Regions from separate parts of the Homo sapiens genome. Here region 2 is linked to region 1. The links come from fine-mapping of genetic effects on gene expression. A gene starts in region 1. The other region holds a variant in brackets. All regions are shown on one strand. Distances are between the middles of the regions. Region 1 holds the start of MCUR1 (mitochondrial calcium uniporter regulator 1). Region 2 overlaps MCUR1 (mitochondrial calcium uniporter regulator 1).

The links. PIP is the estimated chance that this variant, and not a neighbour inherited with it, causes the effect.
Region 2: its variant is fine-mapped to the expression of MCUR1 in T cells (TOPMed, PIP 0.95). The same link has a PIP of 0.9 or more in lung.

The regions. Positions count from the first base shown.
Region 1 is chr6:13,812,233-13,817,613 of GRCh38, forward strand. MCUR1 (mitochondrial calcium uniporter regulator 1) reads right to left here and starts at 2,325. Exons shown (of 9, transcript NM_001031713.4): 1 at 1,783-2,325. The coding sequence starts at 2,197. LOC107986571 (a long non-coding RNA gene) reads left to right here and starts at 1,578. Exons shown (of 2, transcript XR_001743986.3): 1 at 1,578-1,857. RefSeq lists silencers at 1,513-2,182, 2,263-2,532 and an enhancer at 2,693-2,792.
Region 2 is chr6:13,785,856-13,791,236 of GRCh38, forward strand. MCUR1 (mitochondrial calcium uniporter regulator 1) reads right to left here. Exons shown (of 9, transcript NM_001031713.4): 9 at 702-5,009. The coding sequence ends at 4,954. Among named protein-coding and RNA genes, the nearest start is that of MCUR1, 26 kb to the right of the region's middle. RefSeq lists an enhancer at 1,797-2,629 and a silencer at 3,298-3,466. The variant C/A (reference allele first, on the strand shown) is at 3,148.

The sequences.
Region 1 (5,381 bases):
ATGACATCCTTAAGTAGCTCAACCGAGAACCTCAGGCACCAAGCAAACAAATGGTTGGGAAACGCTCATTGGCTGGTTAATGGGCATACATGCTTCCTTAACTGTGTCTCTGCTCTCTTCTGTTTTTATGCATCCATACTCATTTTTTATGATGACTGAAGAATGAGATAGCTGACACTAAAACAACAGTACCACCTTACCGATTGGTCAGCAAATCCGTGAGAAAGAACACTCTCTTTTTGCCCTATACTCTTGCATTGAGAGAAAAACAAATTGGAAATTACTAGCTTGTCAGAAAAAGCGCAACAAAAGGCAAAATACAGAATAAAGACCAAACTCATCTCCGACTCCTAATTACTGAAGGACAGTGACACCGAGTTCACTACTCATTCCCCACTCTCTGTATATAAAGTTTCCTTCACTTTATTGCTCTACTAATCAGTTTTTACCCCAGCCAATGATATTCTTAAATTATAGATATGGTCAACATTTAGTGGGCCTATCTGTTGAAGAAAATATGAAAAATGTGTAGTTAGTGATGGCTACTAATGAATATGTATAGACTGCCCAAAGTGATAATTTTGCCAAGTCTGTTGATTATCAGAAATGATTTTTTTCTTTAATCAACAATATGCTATCTAATAAATTGATTCTATTTACTTTCCTCATCTCCAGGGCAGTGATCTCTCTCACCTCCTTTAAATAGTCATGAGCCCCACAACTACCTTTCAGCCCAGGACAGAGGGGCACACACGACAGTGGTCTATGAGACTATAATACATATTTTTACTCTACCTTTTCTACATTTAGATGCGCAAATACCATTGTGTTCAGATTGCCTCTAGTATTCAGTACGGTAACATGCTGTTCAGGTTTGTAGCCTAGGAGCACTAGCCTCTACCTGATAGTCTAGGTGTGTAGTAGGCTGTAGCATCCAGGTTTGTGTAAGCACACTCTACAATATTCACACAAGGAAGAAGTCGCCTAATGACTCATTTCTCAGTAGGCGACTGTCCTGAAGAGATGCATGACTCTAATTAAATGCTACCTTCTCAATGAAATCGATTCTGATCACCCTATTTAAATTCACAACTGGAGACCCATTCCACTTCCCAAGCCTTATCCTATTTTTCTATACCAGGCATCGAATTACGAATATATAAAAATTATTTGTATATATAAATTATATATACATCAATTATGCATACGTATATCCACACACACATATTTACTGCGTCTGCTCTGCTAGAATTAAGCTCCAGAGGGAAGATTTTGTGGACTGATATATCTCACACATCTAGAAAAGCGCCAGGGACAGGGCAGACGCTAGGACTCCACGAATTAATGATTCCATCAGAATTTGAAATCAAACTGTAAAGCAATCCCTTCATTTCCCAGAGCTTTGCTGCTCAAACATACACACCCCTTCCCCTTGAACGCCCAACAGGCTGGGCGCTGCCAAACAGAACTCCTGGAAGGCGGCGCCCAAAAGCAGACCCTAGGAGTGGGCGGGCACCAACTCCCCGCCCCAGCACGCACCTCCCTCCAACTTTAGCGCCCGGGATTCCCAGGAATTCGTCTCTTCTGGGCTAAGCCCCGCCACCGCGGCCGAGCAGGGCGGGCCCGGACCTTCGACCCACGCTCCGGGCAGATGCCGGTGGCCTTGGAGGACCCGCCCTCCGGCCTGCCGGGCCTTTCCTCGGGGAGGCTGTAGCTGAGATCCCCGCCCCGCCGTCCAACCCCGCGAGACGAGCCCCCTCTCCTCTCCCGCCCGGGCCTCACCTCTCCTGCAGGAAACGAGTGCAGGCGCCGGGCCGTGGTACTGGGGAAGGGCGCCGGCGGCAGCGGCGACGCCCGGTGAGCACCTCCACGCGCTGCTGCGCCCGGCCGGGGGTGCGGCATACCCGAGGCGCGAGCGCTCCCAGTCCCCGAGCTGCCGGCGCGGGGCTGCGGCGGCCAAGCGCGGGGAGGGCACTAGCAGGAGGAGGAGCAGCGGTGAGGCACGTGACACGCCGCCGCGGGCCGCCGGGGCGCGAGGGCGCAGCGCCCCCAGACCGTCGGAGAGCGCAGAGAGGCAGCGGCGTGCTGAGGTTTCGCTGCCGCCCGGTCTTCCGCTGAGGCCCACGGGCAAGAAGAGAAGCCGCTGGCGGCCGGGCAGGCGCTGGGTCCTCTGGCCGCCGACCGAGCCGCAGTCCATCCCCGAGCAGTTCACTGGCCCGGGCGCGCGCTCATGCCTCTCGCTTTTGGCGCCGGCCACGCGCGGTCCAGGCCCAGAGTCCGACAGCGGGAGCGAGCGTGGGCCACAGCGCAGGACCGCCCTTTCCTGCCGGGCGCGCGGGCGGGGCTCGGGACGCGCGCCGGGGGTGGGGTGGGGCGGGGCGGCAGGAGCCCGCCGTGGCGCTCCGAGATGCGGGGACCGTGCGAGCCCCCACCCCATTCGCTAGGCGACGGCGGCGACCGGGAGGAGCCTGCGGGCACTCCGGAACTGGAAGGAGCTTGTTGCTGTCACGATTTGCATTTTCACTGCACTGCTGTCCTTAAAAAGGAATTACCCCGGTGCCCTTCAGAGTCCTGTGAAAAGTCTCAGACCGACAGGCTGCCCTAGATTTCACTGATTATCCTAAGTCCCCAAACATGTGGTTCTGGGGAGCATTTTAAGGAATTATTAGCAGGGCCCAGGGAAAGGCCCTCACATAATACATTCAAAACTAAATTTTCAGAGTTTTTGTTTCCAGATTAGAGCACCAAAAACATGGGAAGGTAGCAATCTGGGAACTTAAAACGTGGGGCATGAATGTTAAAATGAGACCTGTCGGGTATATTTGAAACTGGTAATGTTTAGTTTCGTGGACTTTTTGAAGGCCTGTTACACCATTCACAGATAACTGGTCCCTTATGTGAATTTGGAAGATGTTAGTTGAATAAATAAATGAAATGCATAAGGCACCAAGCTAGGAGATTTTATTAAAAATAAAAAACCGCAAAACAAATTGTTCTTATCCTCCAGAAGCTGTTTTCCTATACAGCCATATGTGTACACATACGTGATGGAAGAATGTGTTATGAGCCATGAGAGATGTACAAAGTGCTGGGAAGAGAGGAGCGTGCATATGGATGTGCAAGATAAGTGTCTATCAAAATTTGAAGAACTGAAAAACAGGATTCAAGTCATAGGTTGGTGCAAAAGTAGTTGCGGCTTTTGCCATTGCAAGTAATGGCAAAAACCGCAATTACTTTTGCACCAACCTAAGACACTTTTGTAAAAGGAGTATACATTTATAAAATTGGTAGAAAAAGCAGTTTAGCAATGAGTATCAACAAAAATTTGTAAACTTTTCTCAAGTCACCTAACTAAAAATGGGGATAATGGGAATAATCCAAAATATTAAATATCTACTAGGTTTGACTATACAAACTTGTCATTTTTATGGGTCAAAATGCTTAATATTGGTAATTTCACATATGCACAAAAGATAGTCATTGTATCATAATTTGTGATTGTGAAAAAATGGGAAAATAGTGCACAACATTAGAGGAACGATTAAACTGTGGCACAAACTTTAATGTTAGTCCTTTGTAATTTTTAAAAATTGAGGTATAATTTGCATACAGTAAATTCCACAGACTTAGGTGACATTTAGCAGTTGATAAATGTCATTTAGCAACTTGATGACATTTAGCAGTTGTATATACCACCCAGTCAAGATCTAGAACATTTTCATTGCTCCAGAAAGTTATTTTGTGCCAGTTTTCCAGACAATCCACCACCACCCCAAGGCAACTATTTTCTCTTTTTTTTTTTGAGACGGAGTCTTGCTCTGTCACCCAGGCTGGAGTGCAGTGGTGCAGTCTCAGCTCACTGTGTCCTCTGCCTCCCGGGTTCAAGCAATTCTCCTGCCTCAGCCTCCTGAGTAGCTGGGATTACAGGTGTCTGCCACCACGCCTGGCTAATTTTTGTATTTTTAGTAGAGACGGGGTTTCACCATATTGGCCAAGCTGGTCTCGAACTCCTCACCTTGTGATCTGCCCGCCTCGGCCTCCCAACGTGCTAGGATTACAGGCGTGAGCCACCGCGCCCGGCCAACTATTTTCAAATTTCAATGACCATAGATTAGTTTTGTCTTTTTTTGAACTTCATGTAAATGGAGACCTACAATATGCATTGCCTTGTGTCTTTCTTCTGCTTTGCGTCTGACTTCAATATCAATGAGATTCATCCATGCTGTTGTATCAGTAATTAGTTGCTTTTAATTGTTGAATAGTATTCCATTGTATGACCATACCACAAGCGGTCATCCATTCTATTAATGGCCATTTGCTTTGCTTATAGTTTTTGGCTATTATGCATAGGGCGTTATGAACATTCTTGTATAAGACCTTGTGTGGACATAATTTTTATCCCTGTTGGGGAAAGTATCTGGGTCAAATTGCTGAATCATATGGTAGCTTAACTTTAGACACTGCTGAATTGTTTTTCCAAAGCGACTGCACCCTTTCACACTCTTAGCAATAGATGAGCGTTTCGGTTGTTCCACATCCTTGCCAAATTTTGATATTTTCAGTCCTCATAAAATGGTACCTTATTGTGATTTTTAACATAACATTTCCCTGATGCCTAATGATGTTGACTAACTTTTCATGTATTACTATTACCAGCCATATTGAATACAATAACATATGTAAAGCACTTAGCACAGTGCCTGGCCTATGATAGGAGTATAATGAATGTCAGTTCTAACTACAGGTTGGATAGCATCCACTTTTCCTTGGATGTGACACCTGTTGTTTTATTTTCCAAAGCATTCCCTTTCTTTTGGTCTCAGCACCCTAGTTTTCCATGGGCAGTGGCTCTTCTCTGCTCTCAGTCCATGCGGTTTGGAGAGACTGATCGCTCTGCAGACCACAGGCATGGGCATGTCACCCAATCAGAGTTAATGAGCAGCCGGGCGCGGTGGCTCACGCCTGTAATCCCAGCACTTTGGGAGGCCAAGGAGGGCGGATCACTTGAGGTCGGGAGTTGGAGACCAGTCTAGAGAAACCCCGTCTCTACTAAAAATACAAAATTAGCTGGGTGTGGTGGCACATGCCTGTAATCCCCGCTACTTGGGAGGCTGAGACAGGAGGACTGCTTGAACCCAGGAGGTGGAGGTTGCGGTGAGCTGAGATTGCACCATTGCACTCCAGCCTGGGCAACAAGAGTGAAATTCCATCTAAAAAAAAAAAGCTTCAATTCTAGGATTCTTTTTTTGTTTGTTTATTTGAGATGGAGTCTCACTCTGTTGCCCAGGCTGGAGTGTGGTGGCTCAATCTTGGCTCATTGCAACCTCCACCTCCTGGGTTCAAGCGATTCTCCTGTCTCAGCCTCCCACGTAACTGGGATT
Region 2 (5,381 bases), 26 kb before region 1:
AACCACAGCTCACTGCAGCCTCTACCTCCTGGGCTCAAGCCATCCTCCCATCTCAGCCTCCTGAGTAGCTAGGACTACAGGTGTGTGCCACCACATCCGGCTAATTTTTCTATTTTCTGTAGAGACAGGGTTTCACCATGTTAGCCAGGCTGGTCTCGAACTCCAGGACTCAAGTGACCCACCCGCCTTGGCCTCTCACAGTACTGGGATTACAGACAAGACCAACCGTGCCCGGCCAGATATTTTTTAAAATTGTGTATTTCTCAGCCAGGTGCAGTGGCTCATGCCTGTAGTACCAGCACTTGGGAGGCTGAGGCAGGAGGATGGCTTAAGCCTAGAAGTTTGAGACCAGCCTGGGCAACATAGTGAGACACCATCTCTGCAAAGAATAGAAAAAAAATTAGCTGGGTGTGGTGGCGCATGCCCGTGGTCCCAGCTACTTGGGTCCCAGGCTGAGGTGGGAGGATCGCTTGAGCCTGGGAGGTCGAGGCTGCCATGAGCAGTGACTGCGCCAATGCACTCCATCCAGCCTAGGCAATAGTAGTATCTTGTCTCAAAAGAAAAAAAAAAAAGAAAATTGTCTATTTCTAAAAACCTGTATTTAAACCTCATCATTTCCCCTCAAACAAGTAGCTTGTATAAAATTACTCATAACATGAACATGCTAAAGAAATTCTTTTGAATGATGAAAAGTTACTTTGTACATTATATTAAAATTTATTTTCTATGTATACCCAAATTTTCAAGTATTAGATTTACTTAGAAATTCACCAGTGTTATCATTATACAATTGGCTGGAATTAACAGTTGCAATACAGTTATTCTAGCTTTTCATATTCAATTTGAATGATCAGAAAAGTATATTAGTCACACAGAATTAAATATTTTAGATAGTAAGAATCTTACACTTTATTAGATAATAAAACATAATTGATATTTGCTTAAGTAACAAAAAAGTTAAGAAATTGGGTTATAAGCAAAGGAACATAAGTGTAAAATGTGTAGAAAGATAAATATTTTCCAAATAAAATTCTAATAAAAGGCTAAACATTCTCAAATATTTTACATACATGAAGAATAAATTATTTCTGGTTAACATGTTTTTGCCTTAGTGCCAAAAAAGCCAGAACAAATTTGATAAGCTCACATTAAAATCAAAGTTTTCTAGATATGAATTCTATATACCATCTCTATATTTGTTTAGAATTTTGCAAAATTCTTAGAAGATTGCATGTTAGGGTGGGGGAAGATAAATGCTTGCCAATACTGACATGGTTAATTAACAGACAGGCTTGAAAGGAGAAGGCTAGAAGAGGGAAGATTATGTCACTAAGCATAGCTACAAAAGGAAAAGCCACATGGAAGCAGAGACAAAGGCAATCCCGACACACAGAGGCATGTTTGTTGCGGCTCAGGGTTTCTGTTTTTCAAGTGTTCAGAGACGAATTCCAGCAAGACTTCTGGTTTGAGTCAAGCCTTTCAACCGAGGTGCTTGGCATACTTAACGGAAAAAGCGAGTACATTCAGATTTAGTTTTGCTAGATATTAAACTAGAAAACTGGATGACAGTAAAACCAATACAGAAACAAAAAGTCATGTTTCCAGTAAAGAACCGTACACACAAGCAGGTTTTGCTTATTAATGTAGCAGGAGAGCATGGAAATCGGAGTTCAGACTCTTTAGAAAAGACAAAAGGCAGGGGAGGGGAGAGAAGAAAAGGAGGAATGCAGAGAAGCCCTCCAAGAATGATGAGTGATTCGTGCAGGAGAGGGAAATACAGACGTTCCGTCCATGTGAGATTCTGCTTCAGGTATTGGACATCGTTCCCTCCACCTGCACCTAGAGGATATGTGTTCAGGATCTCGCTATGGTTAGTTACCCATGTGCTAGACATAGGTTGCTAGCTAGAAGTTTTGCCAGCCATCTTCCCCCCTCCTAGTGCTAATGCCTAATTTCCTAAAGTAATCTGAATCCTTATAAGCCAGGGTAGCTCAGGAGGTTCTATTTACTTATTTATTTATTTTGAGACAGAGTCTCACTGTGTCGCCCAGGCAGATCTCGTCTGGGCCCGAGTCTCGTTGCAGTGGTGTAATCTCTGCTCACTGCAACCTCTGCCTCCCAGGTTCATGCAATTTTCCTGTCTCAGCCTCCCGAGTAGCTAGGATTACAGGGGTGTGCCACCACGCCTGGCTAATTTTTCTATTTTTAGTAGCGAGAGCATTTCGTCATGTTGGCCAGTCTGGTCTCCAACTCCTGACCTCAGGTGATCTGCCTGCCTTGGCCTCCCAAAGTGCTGGGATTATAGGCATGAGCCACCGCACCCAGCATCAGTAAGTTTTAATATTACGTCTAGTCGGCTCACGGGTGCTTGAGCCAGAAGTGGGAAGGGTACACTTGTATTTTGGGCTCAAATGGTTTTCAAATAAAATACATCTGACCAAATAAAGTGAACACAGTCCTGAGCCCTCCTCTCTCCAGATATGCATGCAATCCACACCATCAAAAGAAGAGTTCACTGTTCCCAAGGCCAAGAAGAGGCTATGCTGTACTGCAAAGAACTCTATAGCAAAATCGAACACCCAAATTAAGTGCCAGAATGATGCAGCCCGCTCTCACCAGGAAGAACGACATGTGAGAAAACTTATAGCAGATGCAAAAATGTCAACCCACCATGTTATTTAAAAAAAAATTTTATCAGGATACAAGGACACTTCACTGTTTTTAACCCACACAAGGTTAGGTAATGTTTACCTTGAAACATAATCGCATATGGCCCTTTATGCCACTCACCTAGGCCTTTAATAATGAGGGCAATTGCTAAGTGTGCTGTCTCTTCTGGGGACTTCTCTCTGAAAGGGGGATGATATATTGATAAAATATTTTATTAATCAGTTAAGAATTTTTGATCTACTTGAAAAAGATTAAATTATAATATTTCACTTTGAAACTGCTATTGCTCATGCAAAAGTACTTGATTTTCATACTATATGGAGCTCACAATCTTTGGACTACACAAACATTCTCTAAAAGGGCAATGACTTATATTTTCCAAAGTTTAGACATGACATCCAAAGGACAAAAGGTAACTATTTTTTTTACCAATGTGGTTGGAACAGTGACAACGAGCAATGTATTCACCAAACTGAT[C/A]AAAAAATCTGCCTGTGGTTCCTTCACTGTATGTGTGTGCAGAGAAAGGCAGAAAAGCTTCTATCCATGTCATTGTCTCTCTTGCCCATGTGCCAGTAATTTGAATAAGATGAGAATGGGCCAGGCGCAGCGGCTCACGCCTGTAATCCCACTACTTTGGGAGACCAAGGCGGGTGAATCACGAGGTCAGGAGTTAGAGACCAGCCTGGCCAACATGGTGAAACCTCATCTCTACTAAAAATACAAAAATTAGCTGGGCGTGGTGGTGGGCACCTGTAATCCCAGCTACTCAGGAGACTGAGGCAGGAGAATCGCTTGAACCCAGGAGGCAGAGGTTGCAGTGAGCAGAGATCACGACAATGCACTCCAGCCCTGCGACAGTGCGAGACTCCGTCTCAAAAAAAAAAAAAAGGTGAGAATGTGCTTTTCCAGAATAACCCCAGTTGTATCTAGAATTTGTTTTCAATATAAAGGCAGGTATGAGAATGTTTTGAACAACAGAATTAATCCATCTAGATTAGAATGCTGTGTGGCATGACCATTCTCGAATTTTGAAAGCCTGAGCTGGTTGTGGGCAAGGGGATATTCATTAATGACATAAATTTCATTTATGAAATATGTATCCATCATCTAGGTATCTTATACATGGAGAGCTGACTGCATCCCTTGTATAAAAAGTAAATGAAGACCGGAAGGAAGCAGACTTTGTCCTGCAAACTGAAGCAAAGTTCCATGCTAAGAATCAGCAGGTTTTCTAGGTAGGTAATGCCACCAGTGGAGGATTATTACAGTTCTCAAATCATGAGGGAAAGAGATGGAGAAGAGGGAGGGAGGAGGGAAAATCTTGCATTCTAAGAGGTAAGAGTCCCCATTACAATTGCAATGCTTCTTTAGACAGCTGATTTTTCTGGCTGGAAGGCACATTAAAAATAACCCTAACAATAACTTACCAAGACAATGGAAATCAAAAGAAAAGAAGGTAGACGTGCAGCTGTCTTATTAACATGACAACCAACTACAGCTGAAACAATACTATGGTACAGGGACTAGCTCATGTTAAAGACTGGTTATTTAGGTAAAGAGGATCTGGTGCTCTTGGTTTAGCTTCAGTGATTTTCCAGCACTTATTAAAGCCATTGTGCCCTGAACATGGAGACCCCCAAATCCTCTATGTGCCAAAGATTAAGTTGTAGAGAATTACATCAATGTTTGCTGTTGGTGTGCACCACAGATGAGACCAAGCTTCCTGGTCCGGCTAAGTGGAATCTTCCATGCACTGTGCACCACTCAGCTAGAAAGTCAACTAAGCAGAAAGGAGATAAGGAATGGCTATGGAATACCTGACTTCTTTATCTTGGTTATGTGTCCACAATTTTCATAAAAATAAATAATACACATTAAGTCAAAATCTGGGCTCAAATGTGTAACAAGAAAACAAAAGGACAACAATCTGGTATTCCGGTTTTTTTTTTTTTTTTGAGACGGAGTCTCGCTCTGTTGCCCAGGCTGGAGTGCAGTGACGTGATCTCGGCTCACTACAAGCTCCGCCTCCCAGGTTCACACCTTAGCCTCCCGAGTAGCTGGGACTACAGGCGCCCGCCACCACGCCCGCCTAATGTTTTAATTTTTTAGTAGAGACGGGGTTTCACCGTGTTGGCCAGGCTGGTCTCGAACTCCTGACCTCAGGTAATCCACCTGCCTCAGCCTCCCAAAGTGCTGGAATTACAGGTGTGAGCCACCGCACCCAGCCAACAATCTGGTATTCTTAAGGCAAAACAGTAGAAATCACTTTAAATAGACACTTTATTAGATCCACAGGCGATAAAATCCCAGAGCTACTGTTAGGCACGTAAATATAGACCCTGTAAGAAAAAAACAATTGAGAGTACTATTAGTTCTATTAAGAGTTACTTGAGGGAACATCTTTTTTTAAGAAAACCTAAAAAAGAAAACCTAGAAACTTAGATTGCTCACTGATGTCCCATATTCCGTGAAACGCCTGCCTACTGAAAAAACAAATCCCACACCCTTTATTTTATTTTCTTATTTTAGAGACATGGTCTCATCTGGTACCCAGGAGGAGTGCACCATGCAATGGTATGATTACAGCTCACTGTGCCTCAAACTCCCGGGCTCAAGTGACCCTCCTGCCTCAGCCTCCCAAGAAGCTGAAGCTACAGGCAGATGACACCATGCCCGGCTAAATCTTTTTGTAGAGACTAGGTCTCGCTGTG